2 separate regions of the Homo sapiens genome follow, and region 1 is linked to region 2. A link means that fine-mapping ties the variant in region 2 to the expression of a gene that starts in the linked region. Tissue or cell type: tibial nerve. Region 2 holds a variant in brackets; the other region holds the start of a gene. All regions are shown on one strand. Distances are from middle to middle.

Evidence for each region. PIP is the estimated chance that this variant, and not a neighbour inherited with it, causes the effect. A credible set is the group of variants that fine-mapping cannot tell apart.
Region 1: COLCA1 starts here. The variant in region 2 is the best candidate, but not a certain one, in a credible set for the expression of COLCA1 in tibial nerve (GTEx, PIP 0.64).

Annotation. Positions count from the first base shown.
Region 1 is chr11:111,302,462-111,307,520 of GRCh38, forward strand. It overlaps COLCA1 (colorectal cancer associated 1), which reads right to left and starts at 2,587. Exons shown (of 2, transcript NR_169237.1): 1 at 2,367-2,587. It overlaps POU2AF3 (POU class 2 homeobox associating factor 3), which reads left to right. Exons shown (of 5, transcript NM_001271458.2): 3 at 2,467-2,521; 4 at 3,933-4,162.
Region 2 is chr11:111,340,211-111,345,269 of GRCh38, forward strand. No RefSeq gene overlaps it. Among named protein-coding and RNA genes, the nearest start is that of MIR4491, 5.0 kb to the right of the region's middle. The variant G/A (reference allele first, on the strand shown) is at 2,414.

The sequences.
Region 1 (5,059 bases), 38 kb before region 2:
GAGCCCCATGTGAGTGTGGCACTTCTGTTGCTGCTGGGCCCTTACAGATGGGTGTGGCCACTGTTCCCTTCTTAGCTCGCTACAGGAGCTAATGTGAGGGTAACACACTTCACTTGTGTATCTGACCAGTTTCTGTTCCCCGGAGTAGTTTGACTTATTTAAATTTTTCTGAATTCCCTCCTGAGAAATAAAGCAGGACTTCTGAACCAGTGTCTTATAGGAACAGGCAGAGTAAAGCCTGCTCTACTTTGCTTCCCTTAAGACTGCATCAGCCTATGCCCTCGCAAGCAAGCAGGTTTAACACGCATATAATTTAATTACAAAAGCCAGACGTAAAATCCCTCACTGGAAGCCATCGGATGGATCTGGGATTCTAAAGAAGCTGTGAGAGCGTACTTAGTAGGCAAGGGTAGCAGACACCAGGGGATGATGTTGCCTGCTTCTTAGTGTAGACCTTTCTGGTATAACAGAGATGATCCCCAGTTTGTTCATTTGTTGAAGGATGCCTCTGGGAAACTTTAAGCCAAGGAGAGGGTTAATTATATCAAATACTACAAAGTGGCAAGAAATCTATCTTAATTTGTTATAAAGTCAGTGTAGTATCCACAATTTAAAATTTTAAGAAGGCAATCACGAATGGAAGTTATAGGTTGAGACAGACATTCAGTAAAGAATTCAAATATTCTTCAAGCAGTGCCGGAAGAAACTGTGTGTATGCCGGATTGGAACACTCGATTTTAAAAAACTTATTTCAGCCAGATCAATTTGCAAACATGCGCATGCACGCACACACACAGACACACACACACTTGCCTTTGGGGTAAAAGGAAACTTGAGTTAGTCGTTATCAAAAGATATCATTTACCTTTCTTTTTTTAAATCATTAATTTTTTAAACAGCCTTGATGTGTTTTTATAAATTGTAGACTGTGAATTTTTGTGCTGTTTGAAATCTAAGAGAGAGTTGCCTTTCTTTGTATTCTTGGAGCAAAGTAGAAAGTGAACCCATGACTAGAAAGATAATATCAAGTAGGATATTGTAAACACACCTCAGGGAGATAACATGGGGTGGAGGCAGACAAACAGGCCAATCCGGGGGAGGAATGGAGTTAAGGAAAGCTCTACAATGAGGCAGATTTTTTAATACCCACTCCTTCCAAGTCCTTCAGCTCAAGCTGCAGCCAAATATTTGCATAAAGAGCTGGTAAAGGATTCCAGCTTCCTGGTTCATGACATTACAGCATGGATCGTTTTCAAAATTAATACTGCCTCCTGTTTCAGCAGTGGCTGCCTGCACAGCTCTCCCTGTGGCTCAGAGTATGGGAGTGAGTATGCCCTGTAACCCAAAAGAGGTGTGGTGAGCTCGGCTTCCCAGCACAGAATCACAGAGCAATACGGGTACCTTTAAACTTTAAAGCCACACCTGAAATTTAAAAAAAAAAAAAAAATCCTAAATTACTCAGTATAATTATTAATTCAACTGAAAAATGCAGGCTGCTTTACTTTGAATAGTTAAAAAGAGCAGTCTCATAAACTTTTAAGTATTTAAATACAGTAGTTTAAATAAAAGCAACTTTTATAGATAGTAGTACAAAACATACAAAGTACTGGAATAATTCCCGACCATTAACTAGAATGAAAGTAGGTTCCAACTCACCAACCACAGCTTTAAGAAAATATTTTCTATTTTAATATTTCATGTATACTAAGAACATGTGAATATTTTTAGCTACTCAGAATTAACAAAATTAAGAATTGTGTTCTTTGGGGAAACGACTCCCTAAGGCTAAGTAGCCAGATGGTATATGAAATTTTTGAGAAAAATAATTGACTAAGCCATAGATAGTTGAGATTAAATAAATGTTAGTCCTTAATAATTTTAAATCGAATAGTTTAATAGGAAGCCTTTTGCTGCATTTTCTCAAACTGTTACATTTTTACCACATAAAATTATTTACATTAATTTTTTACTAAAAATTAATCACTTTTAAAATTTAAGTAGAAGAATCTGATATTAGGAAAAAAACTCCCCAAGCAAGCAAACATAAATATTGGATCTAGATAAAACATAATATTGGTTGTATTTAAGAAGTCTGTTTTATGATTCGATTTCAGGTTTTCATTGTTCCAATGCAATTTTCCAGATTGAATCTTAAAAGGATTATAAACGTCAAAAGGCATTTTAAATTCTACACGGACTTAATACACCTACCGCAATTCTATGCACCTGTCTTTCAAATTCTATAAAATATTTGTTGACACTTTCCCTTTCACTTGTTTTTTACAATATATTTTGTACAAAAATTTGTCAAACATTGAAAAAAAAAAAGAAAGCAACTTTTTCTGAGAAGGAAGAATCTGGCTTACCTTATAGCAGAAAGAAACATAGTCCTCATCAAAATGTCTTAGCTTTCCCTTCAGAGCATTTCTTTCAGCCTGCTTCACGGTGATATTCTTGCTTTGACAGCGGTCCGGAGGCAGCAGTGTCCACCTTTCAGACCCAGTTGCACCATCTTCTGCAGGTCAGTACAGCCAGCATTAACAGTTCCCTCAAACACTCTTTCAAAAGTCCATCTCAAAAGTCTTTCAGTCTTGATTCAGGGGTTAAGATAGGCACCACCATTTAATTGGAATCCAACCAATCAGAAGGTGAAAAAGGCATAGTCACTCCACATGCAAGCCCAGCAAGAAAACAAGCATAAATGTTGTCTTCATTTCTGAATTCTCTACTCTCTGCTATATTGTCTCAAGAGTTTGTTCTTCACATTTATTCCAGTTCCTCATCGCCAAGTAACTAAACTGAACTACAAAATCAGAATTGTTCTCAGGAACTTATCTTTTTTTAGTGCACTGTTAGATGGAATACAGAACATCCCAAGACACTCAAATAATGCCTTTGCTCTGTTCCTTTAGTTTCCAGCCGACAGGGGCTTCCCTCCCCTTCTCTGTTCCCAGAAAGCAGTTCAAACAAGTGTAGGTTTTCTCAGCCCAATAAGAATAACTCGATTACATAAACACTCCTACCTCTGCTACTCAACAGCTAAGAGTTTAAGGAGGTCGTATATAAGGAAACCTCTGCCTATGGCCTCTCCCCACTAAATGTGTCACCGTAGCTTCACCTTAAAGGAACTTGAGACCTCAAGAAGAACACAGTGTCCTTTAGTCCCTTTGATGAGCACACTCTAATCCTCTCTTCTTCCAGCATTTACAGATAATTATCACAAATTGGGCCTATTAATAATAAAATGGAAAAGGAGTAATGTTTACTGATTATCTTTGTTTGATGTTTAACAACTTACTTTGATCACATCATGATGTTAACATGTTCACTGAGAAAACATTTTTGCTTTTTGTACTTCCGAGCCAATAGTGTTAATTGGTACTCTATGTTCCTGGTTTCCATGATTATCATTTGCATTCTCATTTAAATCACTTCTCAAAATTCTCTCCTCCAAACTTAAGTTACTGAGTAAGAGTGAAAAGTTCAAAAAAGCAATCACCATAAGTCAAAAGAATTATTTCCCGTAGCATCAGAAGTTTTCTCAAAGCCTCAACAACTTTGTCAGTTACTTCTGAGAGGTTTACGTGAACTGCCGGTAGGGGCTGGATGTCCATGGTTTTACAGCCCAAGAAAGGGGAAGTTTGAGCCATTATTTGACTGTGACACTTGGACACAAATTGGGTCACCATCCTTTTATTTTTGCCCTAACCAGTTTTACAGCCAGTTTCCACATTATTAACCATGTTCATTTCCCTGGAGCTTGAATTAGCTAGGACAACTAAAGAGTCAAAATTGCATTCCCGTTTACTTTTCTGGATTTGTTAAGCCCCCTTTCCCCCTAGACATAGTAAATATTCAGAGTATAGATCTCCATTCAAATCTGTGTTTTGCAATTTTTATGCAAAAACCTGCCTTTTTCCTTTCTCCTCTAGGACTGTATTTTGAGCCTGAACCAATTTCTTCCACGCCCAATTATTTGCAACGGGGAGAATTTTCCAGTTGTGTTTCATGTGAAGAAAACTCAAGCTGCCTCGACCAGATCTTTGATTCCTACCTTCAGACAGAGATGCACCCGGAGCCTTTGCTCAATTCCACACAAAGTGCTCCACACCATTTCCCAGACAGCTTCCAGGCCACCCCTTTCTGCTTTAACCAGAGCCTGGTAATTTTTCTCAGTTCTTTATATACCTGATTGTGTCTAACTATGGGGTAATAGTGCTTTGTGAGTTTGCACCATCCCGTGGGAAATCATACAAAAACTATCAGCAAGGAAATCATCCAAGGAAACAAGCAGAGAAGAATTTAAAAGTCAATGTATAGAAGTAGCCACACACTGCAGGGCATAAACCTTTGGATACACACGTAATTTAGATTTCCCAAGATTTAGATTTTTCGGCCACCAAGTAAGTTGGTGGGTAGCAATAAAAAGAGGTTCCTGGCAATATTCATTTAATGTTTTTTAAACTGTAAAGTCAAGAGACCTACTAATTGGAAGTCAGTGGTTTAAACAATGGCTCTTGGATTTTTTGATGGAATTTTGAGTTCTTGGAAATGGAATTAAGGCTGTGTATATATGGTAACAAACTTCATTTCATTAGGGGGAGGTTTTGCTTTGTTTTGTCATTGAACTGGCTCTACTAACTGATAGTTTGAGTCTGCTATAAGCACAATAACTCATTTGGGTCTGAGATGGTTAGTAAAAATGAAGCCGTAATCTTTGAAAAAAATTAAATTGGTTGTTCTCGGTGGATCTCAAATGTTTGAAAATGTGTTATCCTTCAAAATGAAGTAAGGTTTCTATTAGTGGAAACTAGTTATTTCAGTTGTCTTTTAGAGACTCACAGGTTTGTTTTGTAAACCTTAAATTGTAAAGTTTTCTTTTTTAAGGAATGTAAATACTTTTTGCCTTTGGATTGTCAAAAGTCTGTGTGGGCATCAGACTAAATTTTAGAGCGGATGGGAAATTAACTCTGCAGAATATGCACATTGTCACGGGGAAAATATGGGGCCCCAGTGACCCAGTTCCTTCCCAGCCTCCAAGTTAGGTTTTCTCAGTAAC
Region 2 (5,059 bases):
TAACACCAATCTTTTATGAACTATTGCAGAAAACAGAAAAAGAATGCTTCTTAATTCAGTTTATGCAGCTATACAAAAATCTGATAAAGACATTATGAGAAAAAAATTACAGACAAATAGTCCTCATGAATGTAGACAAAAAATCTTTACCAGAAAAATAATATGTTTTGGCTAAGTCAGATTTATCCCAGGAATGAAAGGTTAATTTAACTTTCAAAATAATCTATCAAAGTAATTCACTATATTAATGGTGAATGAGGGAGAAAATCAGCATGATCATCCCAATGGATCAAAAAAGTCATATGACAAATTCAGCGCCACTTGTGATTTTCTTTTCTGCAAATTGGAAATAAAAGTGTACCTTTCAAGCTGATGAAGTGAAGAGTGCCCATAAAAAAATCTACAACTAATATCACACATAATGGTGAAATACTGAGTGATTTCTCTCTAAGATTGGGAACAAAGCAACAATGCTGTCTCTCACTGCTTCTATTCATCATTGTACTGGAGATTGGAGCCAATGAAATAAAATTTTTTTAAAAAAGAATACCAATTGGAAGGAAAAAAAAGAAGGGAAATCTCAGTTGAGACATAAAATGTTTACATATAAAAACCTAAGGAATAAAAAAAGAGCGGCCAGGTGCGGTGGCTCACTCCTGAAATCCCAGTACTTTGGGAGGCCAAGGCGGGTAGATCACCTGAGGTCAAGAGTTCAAGGCCAGCCTGACCCACATGGAGAAACCCCATCTCTACTACAAATATAAAATTAGCCTGGCATGGTGGCACATGCCTGTAATCCCAGCTTCTTGGGGGCTGAGGAAGGAGGATTGCTTGAACCTGGGAGGCGAAGGTTGTGGTGAGCTGAGATCGTGCCCTTGCACTCCAGCCTGGGGGACAAGAGTGAGATTTCGTCTCAAAAATAAAATAAAATAAAGTAAAATAAATAGCTACTAGAACCAACAAGTGAGCTTAGTAAGATTGCAGGATACAAGGTCAATCCACAAAAATTAATGATATTTGTATCTACTAGTAGCAATCAGAAAATGAAATTTTTAAAAATTCTTTTTACAGAAACATAAAATACTTAGGAATAAATTTTAAAAACATGTGTATGACTTGTGCACTGAAGACTACAAAACCTTGCTGAGAAAAATTTTGAAAGATCTAAATCTGTGAAGAGACATACCTTGTTTATGGGTTGGAGGATACAACATTTTAAGATGTCAGTTATCTAAAATTGATCTAAAGATTTATTACAATCCCAATTATAATTTCAACAGGTTTTCTTTGTAGGAATTGACAATCTGATTCTAAAATTTATATGAAAATACAGAGAATCTAAAATGTTTAAAGTAATCTTGAAAAGAAAACAAAGAGAACTTGTTTGATTTTAAAACTTATTTTAAAGCTATATTCATTAGTATGGTACTGGTGTAGGATAGATAAATAAATCAATAGATCAGAAAAGAGTCTAGAAATAGAATCACACATATAATTTAATTTTCAACAAAAGCATCAGAGCAATCTAATAAAGAAAGAAAAGAGTTTTCAACAAAAATGTGCTAGACAACGAAATATCCTTAGCCTTGACTCCTGCCTCATACCACACACACATACATACACACACACACAAAATGAATTATAAATTTAAAAGTAAAACATAAAACTATCAATCTTCTAGAAGAAAATAAGCTATCTTCACTATTTGAGGGGCAGGCAAAGATTTCTTACATAGGAAACAGAAATACATACCCATTAAAATGATAAATTGTACTGCATTGAGTTTTAAAACTTCACAAAATACACCAGTAGAAAAATGAATAGGCAGGCTGCAGCCTGGGAAAAAATATTCACAGAACGCATATCTGATGAAGGAATTGTATTCAGAATAGATAAAGGACTATAATTCAATAATAAAAAGAAAAGTTGCCCTATTAAAATGTGGTCAAAAGATTTAAACAGACACTTCACAATGGAAGATAAATAAACATCAAATACATATATGACAAAATGTCTTTCATTAGTCATCAAAGAAATGCAAATTATAAACCAGGTGAAATACCCCAAATGTTGTTGAAGGTGTGGAATAACCAGAATTCTCATTTGTTGGTGGTGAGAGTATAAAATGGCACAACCACTTTGGAAAAAAGTCTGGCAGTTATCTTGTAAAACTAAACATATATCTACTATACAAGCCAGTGATTTCATTCTTAAGTATTTATCCAGAAGAAATAAAAAACATCTGGCCAAATATGAAAAAAAAATACTTGTTCAAGAATGTTCTTAGCAGCTGTATTCATAATAGCCAAAAACTGGAAACAGCCCAGGTGTCGATCAATAGGAGAATAAATAATCAGAGTGTGGTAGATTCATGCAATGGAATACTATTCAGCAGAAAAGGAACTGCCTATAC[G/A]TGCAACAATATATGGATGAATATAGAAAAACATTATGCTAAGTGAAAGAAGAGCTACACAAAGAGCGCATGCTGTGTAATTCCATTCACCCTTATTCTACAAGCAACGCTCATCTATGGTGAAAAGAAATTGGTGGTTGCCTCTAAGGAGATAGAGGTGGAGACTGATTGATAAGGAGCACGAGGAAACTTGGGGATTAATAGTATTGTTTTGTATATTAATAGAGATTTGGGTTACACAGCATTACATATTTTCCAAAACTCACTGAATGATGTCCTTAAGATTTGTTTTTTTTGCTCTATGTAAATTTGACCTCACAATAAAAAAAGAAAGAACCTCAAGTTAATATCAGTTTAATATATACATCCTAAAGTCTTTAGGGTGAGTGCACTGATGGCTTAGCTTACTTTGAAATGCATCTAACAGAAAAATACAGAGTCAATAGATGGATTGATAGATTTCTGATCATCTAGAGCTAAATGTTCATTGTAGAATCTAGGTGATTACAGGCATTCACTGTACAATTCTTTAAACTTTTCTGCATGTTTGAAATTTTTCATAATAAAATGATTAATAAAAAAAAGTAACGCTGATGTGAAGTATCAAAACTCTCTATGGTAACCTCAGGGCATAAACCTAAGGAATCGAGCCCCAGTAGGTATACCTCTCCCAGCTGCTTACCAGCCCACCTGTGTCTTGAATGGGTTATCCAACACCCAAGCTTCTGATCAACCTGGACTATTGCATTGCATTTTCCCAGCAGAAGAATATGCAGGATTTTCAGTAAGACTGTGTGTACATTCTAATTTTAATAACTGCAGTTACTAGTATGATAAAGCTTCTGACAATCATATAATTTAAGTATATAAAAGGTACTTTTACTTCAGACTAAAAACTGGTGACAAAGGACTGCAATATGGAAGAAAATAATTATTTTCCAGCCAGGAGATTCTATTTCAATATCAGCTATAAGAAAAATAATTTGTATTTAAATTTTGTTTATAAAGTGTTTCTATCATACCTGTGAGCTGTTTTTATTTATTTATTTATTTATTTATTTATTTATTTATTTATTTATTTTCAGACGGAGTCTCGCTCTGTTGTCCAGGCTGGAGTGCAGTGGTGCAATCTCGGCTCACTGCAACCGCCTCCTCACGGGTTCAAGAGATTCTCCTGCCTCAGCCTCCTGAATAGCTGGGACTATAGGTGCCTGCCACCACACCTGGATTGCCTGGCAAATTTTTTTTTTTTTTTGTATATTTAGTAGAGATGGGGTTTCATCATGTTGGCCAGGCTGGTCTTGAACTTGTGTCCTCAGGTGATCCACCCACCTCGGCCTCCCAAAGTGCTGAGATTACAGGCATGAGCCACTGTGCCTGGCCAACTGTTTTTAAATTTTAAAAGTTTAAGATTCAAGGCCTAATCTTCTGCTTATGATATGTCATCAGTGGACATTTCATGTATATAACCATGTAATAATGGAACACAGCAGTGAACGGATGCATAGCAGTCTGAACTCTTCCCTGTGTATTAGCGCTGAGTCACTGCTGGGATCTGGCAGGGCTCCTCAAAATCCCTGAGCCTCACTAGGATCTCCGGCCTGCCTCTTGGTCTTCAAGTACACAGACCAGAAAGTCACTGTTCCTGAGAGGTGAATAGGGCCAAATGATGCAACCCTGAAAAAGCTTTCCTCTAACTTACTTTCCCAAGGCAGAGAGAATTTCTCTAGAAATCAGGTCAGCCATGTTATTTAGGCATTTTTATTGCATCTTTTCCCCAAGGCCCTGGGACTCTGTGTTGGTATATACACAAAGGATTACACTATTTTTGTTTAGTAAGATGGCTTGCTGATTTCAGTTTACAAGGTGAGAACATGGATATGTAAGTCTGAGTCATTTGGAAAAACAAAAGACAATCACTTTTAGAATAAAGAGAAATACCTATTTAGAATTTTCTCTGTAAAAACATCACATTGATCACATCTTTCCATCTTCTGAAAGGCATTTTAAACCAAATCTACAGATTAGAAAATTTTGATAGATAACTTATCAGAACTATATTTTGTGTTGAAACTGACCAAAATGCTTAATACATTTACTTTTAGTCTTTTAAATATTCTGACTTGTGTTAAATATGTCAGGAAACAAAGAAGTAAGGCAACACTCTCTTGACTTGTGAAGTGTCCAAGCTCTGGGCTGGACGTAGTAGTTCCTCACTAAGCATTTGTTGAATCGGTGAATAATATATCCCCAAACAAGGCCTAAAAAAGGAGCATAATGAAAATAAAGCTGCCACAATTGGGCCCCTTGATTTCGTAAAGCACCCAGGCATCATCTTGCATCAAGTACTTTTGCAGACACAATCTCAAAATGTCTCATTCTAAGAAATGGGCAAATGATACTCTCTTTGATTGATGGAGAAAAAGAATCTGAGCCCAAGATGGCATAGCAAACTCAGAATTCTAATTGCAACTTGCAAGATCAGAACACCCAAAAAAAAGCCCCTGCACACAGCCATGCTGCTGCCTCTGCTGACCTATACATTGGTTATAAGTCAACTGAGGGACAAAGTTCAAAAGAGACCACAAAAGTACCAGAAGGTAAGAATTCTGGCTATAATCTGTCTGTATCCATTAAATATGTCTA